Linked DNA regions of Homo sapiens. The protein of the gene in region 3 interacts with the protein of the main gene of each other region in a pairwise test. Each region holds a gene or a part of one and is shown on either strand. Other genes may lie near its edges.

Evidence for each region. Proteins that work in one complex are often made in the same cells at the same time.
Region 1: the proteins of CFAP206 (region 3) and EIF4ENIF1 interact in binary tests that used the Homo sapiens proteins (3 or more experiments, as listed by UniProt).
Region 2: the proteins of CFAP206 (region 3) and SOX30 interact in binary tests that used the Homo sapiens proteins (3 or more experiments, as listed by UniProt).

Annotation. Positions count from the first base shown.
Region 1 is NC_000022.11:31,479,824-31,486,861, reverse strand, and holds part of EIF4ENIF1 (eukaryotic translation initiation factor 4E transporter), read left to right. Parts: intron 1-7,038. UniProt on the Homo sapiens protein: EIF4E-binding protein that regulates translation and stability of mRNAs in processing bodies (P-bodies). Plays a key role in P-bodies to coordinate the storage of translationally inactive mRNAs in the cytoplasm and prevent their degradation.
Region 2 is NC_000005.10:157,625,160-157,628,457, reverse strand, and holds the end of SOX30 (transcription factor SOX-30), read left to right. Parts: intron 1-1,736; coding exon 1,737-2,118; 3' UTR 2,119-2,779; downstream 2,780-3,298. UniProt on the Homo sapiens protein: Acts both as a transcriptional activator and a repressor. Binds to the DNA sequence 5'-ACAAT-3' and shows a preference for guanine residues surrounding this core motif. Binds to its own promoter and activates its own transcription.
Region 3 is NC_000006.12:87,417,947-87,424,984, forward strand, and holds part of CFAP206 (cilia- and flagella-associated protein 206), read left to right. Parts: intron 1-261; coding exon 262-470; intron 471-7,038. UniProt on the Homo sapiens protein: Essential for sperm motility and is involved in the regulation of the beating frequency of motile cilia on the epithelial cells of the respiratory tract. Required for the establishment of radial spokes in sperm flagella.

The sequences.
Region 1 (7,038 bases), on a different chromosome or scaffold from region 3:
TGATCTGCCCGCCTTGGCCTCCCAAAGTGCTGGGATCACAGGCGTGAGCCACTGCGCCCAGCCGTTCCAGTACTTATTTTTTTGTTTCTTTGAGACGGAGTCTCGCTCTATCACCAGAGTGCAATGGTGCGATCTTGATTCACTAGCCTCTGCCTCCTGGGTTCAAGTGATTATCCTGCATCAGCCTCCCAAGTAGCTGGGACTACAGGCGTGCGCCACCATGCCCAGCTAATTTTTGTAGTTTTAGTGGAGACGGGATCTTGCCATGTTGGCCAGGCTGGTCTTGAAATCCTGAACTCAAGTGATTCACCTGCCTCAGCCTCCCAAAGTGCTGGGATTACACGTGTGAGCCACTGCACCTGGCCCCCTTCCAGTACTTTTTGTTTATTATTTTTTTTGAGCCGGAGTCTCACTGTGTCGCCCAGGCTGGAGTGTAGTGGTGCAATCTCGGCTCACTGCAACCTCTGCCTCCCTGGTTCAAGCGATTCTCCTGCCTCAGCCTCCCAAGTAGCTGGGACTACAGGTGCACGCTGCCACACCCAGCTAATTTTGTTTTTGTATTTTTATTTTTATTTTTATTTTTTTTTTTTTGAGACGGAGTTTCGCTCTTGTCGCCGAGGCTGGAGTGCAATGATGCTATCTCGGCTCACTGCAGTCTCCGCCTCCGGGGTTCAAGTGATTCTGCTGCCTCAGCCTCCCAAGTAGCTGGGATTACAGGCATGTGCCACCACGCCCAGCTCATTTTTGTATTTTTAGTAGAGACAGGGTTTTGCCATGTTGGCCAGGCTGGTCTCAAACTCCTGACCTCGCTGGTCTCGAACTCCTGACCTCAGGTGATCCACCCGCCTCGGCCCCCCAAAATGCTGGAATTATAGGTGTGAGCCACTGCACCTGGCCTATTTTTTTTTGTATTTTTAGTAGAGACGGTTTCACTGTGTTGCTGGTGTTGAACTCCTGAGCTCAGGTGATCCACCCACCTAGGCCTCCCAAAGTGCTGGGATTATAGGTGTGAGCCACCGAGCCTGGCCCCTTCCAGTACTTTTATTTTTATTTTTTTGAGATGGAGTTTCACTCCTGCTGCTCAGGCTGGAGTGCAATGGCACGATCTTGGCTCACTGCAACCTCCGCTTCCCGGGTTCAAGCAATTCTCCTGCCTCAGCCTCCTGAGTAGGTGGGATTACAGGCATGCACCACCATGCCTGGCTAATTTTGTATGTTGGTCAGTCCTGTCTTGAACTCCTGACCTCAGGTGATCCACCCACCTCAGCCTTCCAAAGTGCTGGGATTATAGGTGTGAGCCACCACACCCACCCTTTCCAGTATTTTTTTCACTAAAGTTCTAACCAGTAGTCTACTGGTAGAGTCCAGGCAGAGAGGCTTTTGAATCACTTTCACACACCGATCAGAGGTTAACATGTATATTTCATCTTTGTGTATGTTTCTATCTTTATGCTTACATCATTTTTAGGGAGATATTTCTCTTTCTTAGGGTAGGACTTATGTTTCTTTGCAGTAAAGATTAAGAACCTCAGTATTGTCCATTTTTGACAGTCCAGCCTCAGAATTCTGTCATACGTAGATAAATGTGCCTTGAAGAACTGGTTAAAAGCATTTTTTAGCTTAATGACAGTGGAGCTTAGATTTAAGTCTTTTCTACCAAATTAATTGGAAATAGGTTTACTTTCTACTCTTAAGAGGATTTAGTTAATGACAATTTTAGGATAGTGTTTAGGCAGTGTTAGGGTAGTGCTTTCATGGTTTTCAACACTCTAGTAATTCTATGCGGGACTTGGGGATAAAGAAGTCTTCTCCCTTTAAAGAGAGCTTGAAATGATTATGTGTTCCTAGCACTATAATAAATATGTTAGTTCCACAACTGGAATAATATTCAAACCATCCTTCTTCCTTGTCTATGTACTGAGATCAAAGTACTGGAATAAATAGACTTTAATGATGTTTCTGCCACTTCAAGTTCACGGGCTAGAAGATCTAGAAGCAGTAGAGGGAAACTGTTTTCACTGGTGATTTTGAGGTGGAGTTTCACTCTTGTTGCCCAGGCTGGAGTGCAATGGCGCCATCTCCGCTCACCGCAACCTCCGCCCCAGGTTCAACCTATTCTCCTGCTTCACCTTCCTGAGTAGCTGGGATTACAAGCATGCGCCACCACGCCCGGCTAATTTTTGTCTTTTTAGTAGTGACAGGGTTTCTCCATGTTGGTCAGGCTGGTGTCAAACTCCCGACCTCAGGTGATCCGCCCACCTTGGCTTCCCAAACTGCTGGGATTACAGGTGTGAGCCGGCCGGTGATTTTTTTTTTTTTTTAAATAGGTGGTGTATTCTGTGGAAACTTGTAGCTGTGTATGTTTACTTACAGGGTCAAAAAAACACGTTGGCCAGATGAGAGGGCCCCTTAACCATTGACCCTTCTTAGTTTAGTGTTCAGTTGCTTTCTGGGATAATGTTAGTAGTTTGTTGTTCAGAATTCGAAGAGTTTTTGTTTTTCCCCCATGAGTAGAAGAAGTATAAATGTTTTGGTCAGGTGCTTTTCAGAGTAATGTACCAGAGTTTCCTTTTGTGTGAAGACATCCTTTAGTTAGCTTGTTTCGCAAATGTTAATATGCCTGGGGGATCACCTTTAGGCCTTGGGAAAGGAATTCTGAGTGGTAAGCAGGGGTGGTCCTGAAGATTCTACTTTTTAACCCACTCCCAAGTGGTGCACATGCTGCTGGTCCACTGACTATACTTTAAGTATCAAGGCTTTGGTCTTCCTTAGAGAACTTGATAAATGGTGTTGGTGGTGTCAAGTAACTCAGATGCATAGTTATTCTTTGGGGTTCAGATGATGTTCATTGTGCTTCGAAGAATATTTTAGGACCTCAAGTTAGAGTCACATTGGGTGCATTCAGACCTACTCCTAAATCTCATTGTGGGATGGTTATAAATGGGTTTATCATATGCACCTGTTACCCTGAGGGTCTTGAACCCCTAAGTTATAAATGCTGGTCTGTTTTCTAGGCCACATTCCTAAGACCAAAAGCTATATTTTGGTAGTATCTAAGTATGCATTTTTAAAGTGATCGGATCATGTTGAAGGACTTTTGGAGGTTATAGAGTGGGGTCTCACCTGAAAGTTATGGTTTAAGAGTGGTTTAGACAGTGGTTCTCAAAGTGTGCTCCCTGAACTAGCATTAGCATCATCTGGTAACTTGTTAGAAATACAAATCTCAGGCCTCTTCTCAGTGGTATTAAAGGAGAAACTTGGGGAGTAGAGCTTAACCGTCTGCATTTAACAAGCTCTTCAGGGGATTCTGGCTCTGGTTCAAGTTTGAGAACCATTGGCTTAAGAAATGATCACCTGCTCGCTGGGTGTGGTGGCTCACACTTGTAATCCCAGCAGTTAGGGAGACTGAGATGGGAGGATTGCTTGAGCCCAGGAGTTCAAGACCAGCCTGGGCAGGATGACAAGACCCTGTCACTACAAAAAAAATTTAAAAATTAGCTAGGTATGGTGGCGTATTGCCTGTAGTCTCAGCTACACAGGGGACTGAGGTGAGAGAATCGTTTGAGGCTGCAGTGAGCCATCATCGCGCCATTTCACTACAGCCTGTGCAACAAAAAGAGACCCTGTCTCAAAAAAAAAAAAAAAAAAAAAAGATCGTCTCCTGGCAGTGGTGCTCATTCAACTTTTTCTTCACCAGAAGCCCTTGTTCACCAGTTCTGGAATATAGTACCTGCTATTCTGTTAGTGATGCCATCTTCTGCTTGAAATACAAAATAGAAATGTTTTAGGCCATCCCACTATTCAGATCCATGTGGTTTTCTTTTCTGTTTTTTTGTTTTGAGACAGAGTCTCTGTCTGTCGCCAGGCTGGAGTGCAGTGGCCCTATGTCGGCTCACTGCAACCTCTGCCTCCCGGGTTCAAGCAATTTCCCTACCTCAGCCTCTTGAGTAGCTGGGACTACAGGCGCGTGCCTCCATGCCCAGCTAATTTTTTTTACATTTTAGTAGAGATGGGGTTTCACCATGTTGGCCAGGATGGTCTCGATCTCCTGATCTCATGATCCACCCACCTTGGCCTCCTAAAGTGCTCTGATTACAGGCGTGAGCCACCACGCCTGGCCTCACATCCATGTTATTTTCGTCAAGTGAATAGACTAATCTGTTTTTTTTTGTTTGTTTTTGAGACCGCGTCTCACTCTGTCACCCAGGCTGGAGTGCAGTGTTGCAATCTTGGCTCACTGCAACCTCTGCTTCCCAGGTTCAAGCAATTCTCCTGCCTCAGCCTCCTGAGTAGCTGGGATTACAGGCACGTGCCATGATGCCCAGCTAATTTTTGTATTTTTATTAGAAACGGGGTTTCACCATATTGGTAAGGTTGGTCTCAAACTCCTGACCTCAAGTGATCCACCTGCCGTGGCCTGCCAAAGTGCTGGGATTACAGGCGTGAGCTACCGCACCCGGCCAAATAGACTAATCTTATAAAGGATACATACGTTATGCTGTTCTTCCTTTGCTCCTGTGTTTTGCCACTGATTCCTTATTAAATGACTGTCACCTGCCAGTTGGACAGGGAATAAAAGCAGAGACACTCAGAACATTCAGCTTGATACTGACCAGTGTTAAACATGCGTATTAAAGTTAAGTGAATGTTGAATTATCTTAGTTTAACTTCATGTGGAATTTTTTTTTTTTTTTTTGAGACAGGCTCTCACTGTTATCCAGGCTGGAGTGCAGTGGTACAGTTAACTCACTGCAGCCTCGAACTCTGCATTCATGCGATCCTTCCACCTCAGCCTCCTGAGTAGCTAGGACTACAGGTGTGTGTCACCACACATGGCTAATTTTTTCATTTCTTTGTAGAGATAGGATCTCATTATGTTGCCCAGGCTGGTCTCCAACTCCTGACCTCAAGCGATCCTCCTGCCTCAGCCTCCTAAAGTGCTGGAATTCCAGGTGTGAGCCACTGCATCTGGCCCCATGTGGACTCCTCATAACCTTGACTAGTTACAAAGTGGCATTATTGTAGTCATTAGTGTCTCCAGGGATCTTTAAGGGAGGCCATCCTAATTTGTGGCTGGTAGGCCAATTGGTCATAGCAGTCAGTACAGCCATGTTTGTCTTTCCTTTAAAACAATCAGGAAAATGGACAAGCAGTTGAAGTGACTGACTTGAGTCATCCTAGCCTTCTTGGATATAATCAGAAGACTTGAAGCCAATCCCCAGAGAAAAGAGTAACTGATTTAAATCCTAGGTTGAAACAGGAATCAGGTGGTCCCTTTTTCCAGTACAGAAATCTTATTTGATAACTAAATGTATCTTTTATAAACTGAGTAGTAACTCAGGTGGCATTTCTGTGACAAATTTAGGTATAAACTTCTTAAACTAATTTAAGGATACCTATTTATGTTGGAGAAGGTAGAATTATGGTATGAAAAGTCATTGGGAGGACAAGGTGGGAGGATGAATTGAGTCCAGGAGTTCACGACCAGACTGGGCAATATAGTGAGACCCCATCTCGTTAAAAAAAAAAAAAATTGCCAGAGGTGGTGGTGTGCACCTGTGGTCCCAGATACTCAAGAGGCTAACGTGGGAGGATCACTTGAGCTTGGGAAGTTGAGCTTGCAGTGAGCTATGACTGCACCATTGCACTCCAGCATGGGCAACAGAGTGAGACTCTGTCTCAAAGGAAAAAAAAATTATTCAATCTTAATGTGTCAACTGTCCAGAAAACCTATCTTACTGGAAGTTGTTAGAGCAGGCTGGCTGGCAAGACCATAGAGAATAGCTTCTGACTGCTTTTTCCTACCCGTTCCTTTTTTGTTATTGTTGAGACAGAGTCTTGCACGATCTTGGCTCACTGCAACCTCCACCTCCCAGGTTGAAGTGATTCTCCTGCCTCAGCCTCCTGAGTAGTTGGGATTACAGGTGTGTGCCACCATGCCCAGCTGATTTTCTTTTTTTTAGTAGAGACGATTTCGCCATGTTGGCCAGGATGGTCTCAAACTCCTGACCTCAAGTGATCTGCCCACCTTGGTCTCCTAAAGTGCTGGGGTTACAGACGTGAGCCACTGCACCCGGCCCCTGCCTGTTCGGTTTTGTTTTGTTTTCAGAGGGAGTTTTGTTCCTGTTGCCCAGGCTGGAGTGCAATGGCGTGATCTTGGCTCACCACAACCTCTGCCTCCCGGGTTCAAGCGATTCTCCTGCCTTAGCCTCCCGAGTAGCTGGGACTACAGGCGCACGCCACCATGCCCGGCTAATTTTTTGTATTTTTAGTATAGATGGGGTTTCTCCATGTTAGGCTGGTCTCAAACTTCTGACCTCAGGTGATCTGCCCGTCTCACCCTCCCAAAGTGCTGGGATTACAGGCGTGAGCCACCACGCCCGCCCAGGAATATTTCCCTTTTAATCCCCCTTCCATAAATGTGACTTATGTGAAATTCTACATAATGTCAGAAGGTCCATCAGAATGCATAGTTGTTTCTGCATAGGATTTCTGCAGAAAGAAATGGATAAGGATTTTAACCATTGTTCTTTTGGGCTTTTGTTGAGATTCATTTGCTTTCCACTTTAATAGTGATCACCAAAAGTGGGTGTTCATACTAGTAATTCCCCAATAGGTTTTGGGAGCCTTGACACATTTTCTTTAAGGAAGGCTGCTGCAACTAAGAAAATATGTTTATGCTTCCTTGGGTGTGTGGCTCTTGGGCAATTAGCAGCTTGTTCTTGCCTAGTCAGGTTTTAGTAACCTGTGCAAAAAGTGAAGTCTCAGGTATTAACTCTTATATTCGCCATATGGTAATCTTAATGAATTCATTCGTGATCAGTAAGTTCCTATGGGTTAAGACTTTCCAGGCTAGGCACAGTGGCTCACACTTGTAATCCCAGCACTTTAGGAGGCTGAGGCAAGATGATCACTTGAGCCTAAGAGTTCAGACCAGCCTGGGCAACACAGCAAGACCTCATCTCTACAAAAAATTTTTTAAATTAGCTGGATGTGGTGGCATGCACCTGTAGTCTTAGCTGCTTGGGAGGCTGAGGC
Region 2 (3,298 bases), on a different chromosome or scaffold from region 3:
GTATGTCTGTCATACTTAGGTTTTTAAAAGTAAGGTAACAAAGTTGACTCTGTGTGTGTGTGTGTGTGTGTGTGTGTGTGTGTGTGTGTGTGAAGGCCAGAAATGAAACACTTAACTTGCCATGGGTTTTGCCGATGAGTATGGTCATTATGTTTATGTTATCTGTCACTAGATGGTTGGACTCTACCTCTTCCTATAATTCCTGCTCTATGCCTTTGAAAGAGAGAATAATACTTAAAAACAATTGACAAATGGGTTTGAGTAGCAGAATTTTTGAGGTATAATCTTTTTTAAAAAAATTTTTTTTTGAGATGGGGGTCTCACTATATTGCCCAGGCTGGCTTCAAACTCCTGGGCTCAAACGATCCTCCTGCGTCAGCCTCCTGAGTAGCTGGGACTACAGGCATGCACTACTGTGCCCAGCAAATGGCAGAAATTTTGGATTTGACTTTTTTTTTTTTTTTGAGATGGAGTCTCACTCTGTCACCCAGGCTGGAGTGTGGTGGCGTGATCGCGGCTCACTGCAAGCTCCGCCTTCTGGGTTCACGCCATTCTCCTGCCTCAGCCTCCTGAGTAGCTGGGACTACAGGCGCCCGCCACCACGCCTGGCTAATTTTTTGTATTTTTAGTAGAGATGGGGTTTCACCGTGTTAGCCAGGATGGTCTCGATCTCCTGACCTTGTGATCCGCCCACCTCGGCCTCCCAGAGTGCTGGGATTACAGGCGTGAGCCACCGCGCCCGGCCAAAAAACCATAACTTTTAAAACTGCAAAATGTCTTTTTGATTCTTCACATTCCTGCCCTCCAAAAAATGTTTTGGAAAAGACCTTTAAGACCATAGTTTACTATCAGTTTCAAATCTTTCTAGTAGTAACAGTGTTTTAAATTTACTTTATTATTGAATGTCAATGAAAAAATTTAACTTGTCTTCTGTTCCAGTGCCTCAATATTCTGGATCTCTTGATTTCAATCTAGTTATACATTTCCCCCCCAACATGAGCTTCCTTTCAAATACCACTAAAAACAACTATTGCACTATTGCATTGTTTACTAAGTGTCAATTCTGTGGGTTTTTTTGTTTGTTTTTGTTTTTTTGGAGGCGGAGTCTCACTCTGTCACCAGGCTGGAGTGCAGTGGCGCAGTCTCGGCTCACTGCAACCTCTACCTCCTGGGTTCAAGCGATCCTCCTGCCTCAGCCTCCTGAGTAGCTGGGACTACAGGCATGCACCACCATGCCCAGCTAATTTTTTGTATTTTTAGTAGAGATGGGGTTTCACTATGTTGGCCAGGATGATCTCTATCTCTTGACCTCATGTTCCGCCCGCCTCAGCCTCCCAAAGTGTTGGGATTACAGGCGTGAGCCACCGCGCCCAACCACTGAGTGTCAATTCTTAGCATAGCTCAACACACATCTGCATTTCCAAAACCTTATATGGTATGAGGCATCATGAGAGAAAGACCAGAATAAGCAATTTTGTTATCATGGTTGTCAAAGGTAAGAAGCCTGAGGCTAACGATAGATAATAGTGCTGGTGAGTATTCCAGTCACAAGCTCCCTTTCCTGTTCCTTGTGGGTGGGGACTGGGCAGTGGGAAAAGAGCAGAGGAATACATGAAGTGTTTGCAGAAAGGAACTTTCCAAACCCCAAAGAGGAGGCATTAACTTGCTCTGTTAGTCTGTATGCAAGGCAATATGTGGGCAAGATCTAATTCCTTGTTTGTGTTTTTCTGCTGCAGTACATGCCCTTACAGTCGGCCTCCCTTTGGCTATGGAAATTTTCCGAGTTCAATGCCAGAATGCCTTAGTTATTATGAAGACAGGTACCCAAAACATGAGGGTATCTTTTCAACTTTAAATAGAGACTATTCTTTTAGAGACTACTCAAGTGAATGCACACACAGTGAAAATTCTCGGAGTTGTGAGAACATGAATGGAACTTCTTACTATAACAGTCATAGCCACAGTGGGGAAGAAAACTTAAACCCTGTGCCTCAGCTGGACATTGGAACCTTGGAGAATGTCTTCACAGCCCCGACATCAACTCCTTCTAGCATCCAGCAAGTCAATGTCACCGACAGTGATGAGGAGGAAGAAGAAAAAGTGCTCAGGGATTTATAATTTTAAAACAAATATGCACAGAAAATAAACATTTCTTAAAATATATTCTGGGTCAGTTGGTATGAGAAAAAAAAAAGCCTAGAATTCTTTGTTGAAAGTTTTCAGTCGTGATTTGAGGAGTTAAAACCAAATGCAATTTATGTCTTCATAAAATTTTGATTAGTGAAACTAGAGTCTGGATGTTTCATTGTAGGAATATTTAAGTTATTAAGTAGTTTAATTTTAATGGCTGAAATTTGCATCAACATGTATTATTATTACTTTATCCTGGAACATGCAAAATACTGAAGCCTCACAGTTGTATGTGAGGGGAAAGGGGAAATAAATCTAGCATAGTGTGATTTTTATTTTATCTCAGGATACATTTTTTAAATGATTTTTTGTTTGCTTTTTATGTAATACTTATGGATGTTGTCAATTTTTGATGTAACATTTTGAAAGTATTTTGACAACTCCTAGTGAACTTGGACTTGGTTGCTAAATTTAACTTACACTAATAACCAATTATAAGTTCCAAATGTGTTTTAATGGCACCTGGGTGATTCTTCAGCTAAATTTAGTCATTTCTGTTTCTAAATATTTTTATCATTTTAAAATATTTTTTTTCCATTTGGCATACATCGTTCTTTGTTGTAATTAAATAAACATAGATAAAATTGTTCTTGTTGGATGTTTTCTGTTTGCGGGATAGAAGTAAGCAAACAGAGTATTTTTCATAGAAGATTGTTTTCTATACCATATACAGATAATTCATTTTTACCTATAGTCTCCAGAATTGCATAGATTCTATTAGCTCACACGAGACTTAAACATGTATCAACAAAGTTGCCCACACATTCTGATGCCATTTCCAAACTCTTTACACATACGTACACATGACTTAAGCACATCCCAGAATGGAAGAGCTCTTCCAGATTTGGCTCAAGCAGCTGTCTTGAAAACCATGAAGTTTATTTAAGAGCATAAGGAATTTATTTAATTCACGATGAACAAAAAAACCCTACCTGTGACATAACCTCCTGGTAAGTACCCAGTTAGGGATTGAGAAGGCCTTTTTAGAACAGTATCAGGACTATGAAAGTTGAGATCATGGTAAAAGATCTCTAAGGTACAAAGTGAATTGATGATGGGAAATAGTCACCAACCAATACGCTTTTCCCTCAGTGATCTATATAATTTA
Region 3 (7,038 bases):
CCAGGATGGTCTCAATCTCTTGACCTCGTGATCCGCCCGCCTCGGCCTCCCAAAGTGCTAGGATTACAGGTGTGAGCCACCACCCCCGGCCTAGATTTTCTTTATGTTGTGGGACCCAGGAAACACATGCCTCATTATTACTAATTTGATTGGGGAGAAAAACCCTAACTTAATGTTTAAAATGTAACTACTTTCTAGGCTTCTTCTCCTTAATTGTTTTTAGTCTCCTTTATGGCTGCCTTTTCATACTCTTACAAACAGTGCCAGCTGTTCTCCATGTAGCAATCCCAGCCACCATGCAGCATATTGATTACCAGCTTGAGACTGCCCGGAGCCAGGTATACCGCTACACAGCCATCCTTGAGAAGGCAGCCAACGACCCACTCATGAGGGCTGAACTTCAGCCATATATGTTAAAAGAAGCGCTATATAATATACGACAATATGAGGTCTTCCTTCAGATCATTTTGGTGAGTTAAGTTCATAAGACCTGACCTTTTCTATATAATGCAATCTCTTTATATAAGGCCACATCAGGTAGAACCAGGTCACTAATTAAGGAGAAAACCTCAGTAACTGCTCGGTTTATATTGCTTTGGTAGAGTTAGGAATCAAAATAGAAACAGAAAAGTTGGGTTTTGATTTTAATGAAAATATTTTGGTAGAAGTTGAATTTGTATTTTTTCATTGGTACTTGATAATATGATTGTTAGCATGCTGTAGTTAAACAGTGGTGTATATGTAAGTAATACTATGTTTATTTTAGTTCAGAGCAAGTATGTAACATTGTTTGGCAGGTAGTTGCCTTTCAAATAATTTTTGTGTAATTATTTGTTCTCACTGTAACAACTGGTACAAAATATTTTTTTAAAGGTTTTTTGTAGGCCAGGCAGAGTGGCTCATGTCTGTAATCCTAGCACTTTGGGAGGCAAAGGTGGACAGATCGCTTGAGCCCAAGAGTTCAAAATCAGCCTGGCCAACATGGCAAAACCCCATCTCTACAAAAAGTACAAAACTTAGCCGGGCACAGTGACATGTGCCTGTATTCCCAGCTACTCAAGAGGCTGAGGTGGGAGGATCACTTGAGCCCAGGAGGCAGAGGTTGCAGTGAGCCAAGATCACACCACTGCACTCTGACAGAGGGAGACCCTGACCCTGACTCAAAAAAACGTTTGTTTTTTTTTTTGTTTTTTTTTTAAATATAGATTGGAGTCTTGCTATGTTGTCCAGGCTGGTCTTGAACATCTGGCCTCAAGCAATCCTCCTGCCTCAGCTTCCCAAAGTGCTGGGGTAACAGGCATAAGCCACCATACCTAGCCAGATAAGATTTTTATATCTGGTGTTTTTAGATCTAATGAACAAGCCAAACAGTATCCCTAGAGAGTTGAAAAATATGGTAAAGTGGTGGTTATAAACTTTTTAAAAAGTAGCAGTGACCTTTCTGTCAGATAGAAACTTACTCAGAATCTTACAAATATAAAACAGATATCTACATAAAGGGACTGGAGGACCTTTTCACTAAGGGATATCCCCTTGACACTCTAGGGTTGTAAGAAACACAGTCTGTTAATTACTGCATGATGGCAGGTTATGTTCCCACTTGTCACCGTTTACTTTTACACAACCTCTGTTTTCCAGTAACTATGAGATTCTCGGTTAGTGGAACTGTCTTTTGTATGAGTGAATGCTAATTTCTTGAGGGATAGAATAGGATGTATTCTGACCACCTCTTCTTTTTAACTTGCATTGTAATGACTTGGTCCTTCTATTGGATGCACTTGGTCTGTCCTCTCTCCTTACCTAGCTGTTCTGATGACATGACTTCATTCAAACTAGGGGTTGTCCTCACAACTAGCCTATCTAATTGTCTTCAGGAGGAAGGATCCTAGCTGGGAGGCTGAGGTTAGAGAACTGCTTGAGGCCAAGAATTCAAGACCAGCCTGGGCAACATTACAAGACCCTGTCTCTACAAAAAATAAAATTAGCCAAGCATGGTGGTACTAACCTGTAATCCCAGCTACTTGGGAGGCTAAGGTAGGAGAATTGCTTGAGCCCAGGAGCTTGAGGATACAGTAAGCTTTGGCTATGCCACTGCACTCCAGCTTGGGTAGCCAAGGAAGACCCCATCTCTAAAAAGAATAAATAAATAAATAATAATAAAAACCAAGTCACACTCTTGGGGTGGATATTTCCCTTTACATTACCTTGTGGCTATCAGCCTTATGTTAACTAGTCAGCTACTAAGGGGATTTTGTAATCAATTTATTTTGAAGTGCATGTGAGTCCACAGGAGTAGAACTTCACATTCACATTTGTCACCTGTATTCAGAGGTGATATTATAAGAAAGAACCTTGAGAAACTGTCACACAACTGTAAGGATGTTGCAGAAGATGTCATTCATTATATAGAATCTTCTCATAGCTTGCAATCATGAATCCACCAACTAAGTCTTAAATTCTCATTGGCGTTCTACTTCTCACAGCTGGAGAGGACAGTGAGTAAAATGTAGAAATGATGAGTGTGGTCTTTGCAACCAGACTACATGAATTCTAATCATGACTTTGCCACTTACTAAATCTGTGTCCGTAAGGAAGCTGCTTAACTTCCCTGTGCCTTGGTTTCCGTATCTGTAAAATGGGGTTATTCATAGTCTTCACCATGTAAATAAGGCGGCATAGTGCCTGGTGCAACGGCTCAATAAAGTGATGATGATGTTGTTTATGATTATCATCATCATCATTGTTAGGGCCTTAGCTGAACAGCTGTGATTTCATTTGTCTAGTGGAACAAGCTGAAGAGCTTTTATTTTTCCATACAGTATCTCATTTCCAAGCTCCTTGCTGCTCACGTTGTTGAGAAAGTTAATTTTCTTATCCAAGCACTCTTTATGGCTGTTTTGTACTGACTTTAGTCAGGATCAGGATGAGTTTTCTTAACTTTCTGATTCTCTGCTCAAACAGTCTTTTTTGTTTTGTTTTGTTTTGTTTTTAAACTATTCAGTCCTTCCCCATCAGTCTTAGTGACAATTAAGGTTGATTATTATGAAATGGATATTGGTTTAATCAGTATTATCTCTAGATTATAAACTGCATCAATTTAAAATTAGCCAAGATTTTTCCTATATTAAAATCTATGAATATTCGTTTTAAAGTCACATTATTTGAACTAATTAAAAATTTTAAAGTAGCAATTTTGATTTTTAAAAATTCTCTCATCAAAGTTTCAGTTTATGTGAACATTTTAAAAATCCAATATAGGCCGAGCGTGGTGGCTCACGCCTATAATCCCAGCACTTTGGGAGGCTGAGGCAGGCAGATCACCTGAGGTCAGAAGTTCGAGACCAGCCTGGCCAACATGGTGAAACCCCGTCTCTACTAAAAATACAAAAATTAGCCGGGCATAGTGGTGGGTGCCTGTAATCCCAGCTATTCAGGAGACTGAGGCAGGAGAATCGCTTGAACCCAGGAGACAGAGGTTGCAGTGAGCTGAGATCGTGCCACTGCATTCCAGCCTGGGCGACAGAGTGAGACACTGTCTCAAAAAGAAAAAAAAAATCCAATATATAGCCTGGGTAAGATAGTGAATTATTTTGTTTTAATCAGGCCTTTATCTTCTGCAGTGAACACATTGAAATATTCTAGAAAAGAAAAGGGAGTGATGATCGTAGTTTTGTTGACTCTTAACTGAGAGAATAAAATTCCATCTTCCATGGGCTTTTAAAGTGCAAGGCAGACACCAAAGAGGGAAAGCTGCATGTTATTGTGCAAGTAAGAGCTGCGTTTGACAGCACATTTGTTAAAACCTGTAAGTCAAGATTTTTGTAGAGTTATTTCCCCCCAAGCTATTTTTGCAGGGCCCATTCACAGACACACAACACAGGGCTTCTTGATTTTTCTTGATAAGGCAAGTAAAAAAATCAGTTAGGTGGAATTTGTGCTTGTTTTATTATATTTTATTTCTGTTGTAATAAGAACATTAAACATCAGAGATTCCATTCTAATTTCTGCTTCTATAAGTTTGACTAGACTTGTTGAAAATTGTCCGTGGAAGAAAGTATGAGGAACTTATAAAAAGTGTTTAAAAGGTAGGGGGAAGGGGAAGAAGACAAAGAAACATGCTGGGATCACATGCTTTTGCCAAACATTTGAATGTTATGATAAAATTTTTTTAAGTGATAGCATTTTTAGAGGACTAATATTATAATTAAAAACTCTAGATGGGCCGGGCGTGGTGGCTCACACCTGTAATCCCAGCACTTTGGGAGGCCGAGGCAGGCGGATCACCTGAGGTCAGGAGTTCAAGACCAGCCTGGCTAACATGGTGAAACCCCATTTCTACTAAAAGTACAAAAAATTAGCCAGGCATGGTGGTGCGAGCCTGTAATCCCAGCTACTCGAGAGGCTGAGGCAGGAGAATTTCTTGAATCCGGGAGGCAGAGGTTGCAATGAGCCAAGATCACACCATTGCACTCCAGCTTGGACAACGAGAGCGAAACTCCATCTCGAAAAAAAAAAAAAAAAAAGGCCGGGTGCGGTGGCTCACGCCTGTAATCCCAGCACTTTGGGAGGCCGAGGCAGGTTGATCATGAGGTCAGGAGTTCAAGACCAGCCTGACCAAGATGGTGAAACCCCGTCTCTACTAAAAATACAAAAAATTAGCCCGGTGCAGTGGCAGGCACCTGTAATCCCAGCTACTTGGGAGGCTGAGGCAGGAGAATCGCTTGAACGCGGAGGGTGGAGGCTGCAGTGAGCTGAGATTGCACCACTGCACTCTAGCCTGGGCCACAGAGTGAGACTCTGTCTCAAAAAAAAAAAAACAAAACAAACAAAAAAACAACTCCAGATGATTGTGAATAAATTCTTTTTAGTAAAATGTAAGTAGAGTAATTTCTAGGACATTATTAGAAAAAAAGCAAGAAGCTCTGTGTGCCTACTCTGAATGGATCCTGCAACTACAGCTTGGGGGAGGGGTCTAGAGTATTTTTTTTCTTTTTCAGACAGGGTCTCGCTCTGTCACCCAGGCTGGAGTGCGGTGGTGCAATCTCGGTTTACCTCTGTCTCCAGGGTTCAAGCGATTCTTCTACCTCAGCCTTCTTGGTAGCTGGGACTACAGACACGCGCCACCACGCCTGGCTAATTTTTTTGTATTTTTAGTAGAGACGGGGTTTCACCATCTTGGCCAGCCTGGTCTCGAACTCCTGGCCTCAAGTGATCCACCTGCCTCAGCCTCCCAAAGTGCTGGGATTACAGGCGTGAGCCACTGCGCCCAGCCTTAGAATATTTTTTTATTTTTATTTTTTTATTTTTCTTTTTTTTTTTTGAGACGGAGTCTCGCTCTGTCGCCCAGGCTGGGGTGCAGTGGCGTGATCTCCGCTCACTGCAAGCTCCGCCTCCCGGGTTCACGCCATTCTCCTGCCTCAGCCTCTCGAGTAGCTGGGACTACAGGCGCCCGCCACCACGTCCGGCTAATTTTTTGTACTCTTAGTAGAGATGGGGTTTCACCGTGTTAGCTAGGAAGGTCTCTTATCTCTTGACCTCGTGATCCACCCGCCTCCGCCTCCCAAAGTGCTGGGATTACAGGCGTGAGCCACCGCGCCCGGCCCAGCCTTAGGATATTTTTAATTGTAGGTTTTAATAAGTATTGCATGTCGAATGCAACTTTTATTTTGGAGAACGTATGCAAATGTATTCCTGTTTCTTGTTGCTGTTGCATAAATCTTAAAAGACTTTAAAGACTGCATTTTCGTATTGATTCCTAAAACAAAACTTAACAAGCAAGGGGGAAAAAACTCTATGAGGGTAGACAAGAGACCTATTTGATATAATAGATAATAGTGTATGGAGGAATAAAGCAGGAGGAGGAGTAAAGCTTAAACAGCAGTATGGGTAAAATTAAACAGGATACACGTTACATTTATGAATAAAAATTTGTTAGTTGTAATACAATGATAATAGTTGATAGTACTCATGAAGTAATTATTTTTGTCATTTAAAAGAGTCTAGAAAGCATATAATTAGGCTACATACAGATGTCTGAGAATTCAGATGCACCTTTTTCTCTTCAAATAGATGTCATTCTTTTATGCTATACTGATAAACCCACACCACAACCATTTCTGGTGACATCTTGGGCAACACAGTATAATGGTTAAGAGCTGGGCTGTGGGCTCAGATGGTTTGGGATCCACCAAGATTGCTACCCCTTATTAGCTGCATATACTTAGACAATTTACTTACCTTACTATTCTTTGATTTTCTCATTTGTACTTATCCCTTTTTGTATTTGTAAGTATTTAATGTGGTGCTTAGCACATAGTAAGAATAAATATAATTATTTTTTTTTATTTTTTTGGGACAGAGTCTCGCTCTGTTGCCCAAGCTGGAGTGCAGTGGCTCGATCTTGGCTCACTGCAACCTCCGCCTCCCGAGTTCAAGTGATTCTCCTGCCTCAGCCTCCCGAGTAGCTGGGACATAGGCAGGTGCCACCACGCCCAGCTAATTTTTTTATTTTTAGTGGAGATGGGGTTTCACCGTGTTAGCCAGGATGGTCTCGATCTCCTGACCTCATGATCCGCCTACCTCAGCCTCCCAAAGTGCTGGGATTACAGGCGTGAGCCACCGTGCCTGGCCAAATATAATTATTTCAAATTCAGTGTTTAGCAACTTATTTTCAGACCATGATTGTTGTATCAAATATATTGTTTTTCTTTCAATGCTCTGACTTTTAAGATTTTCTGCATTCTTCAATGCGACTTTTTTCTGTTTAATTTTTCATACTTTATTCCTTGTATCAATAGATTAAGAAAGTTAAAGTTTCCCAAGTGTTGATTTATAATGTTTGTGTCATACAAAAAGTTCAGTTTCACAAAGAGTAACATTCAGTGATCTATTTAAATGTAATTTTAATCCTTATTTTAAGGTAAGGGCTTTACAATAAGCTAAATACACACAAACCTGTATATCCTGAACTGCAAAAGCAGATTCCATAGCCATATATGTTTTAATCAAGTACACATTTCCACAGTGAACAAGTACTTA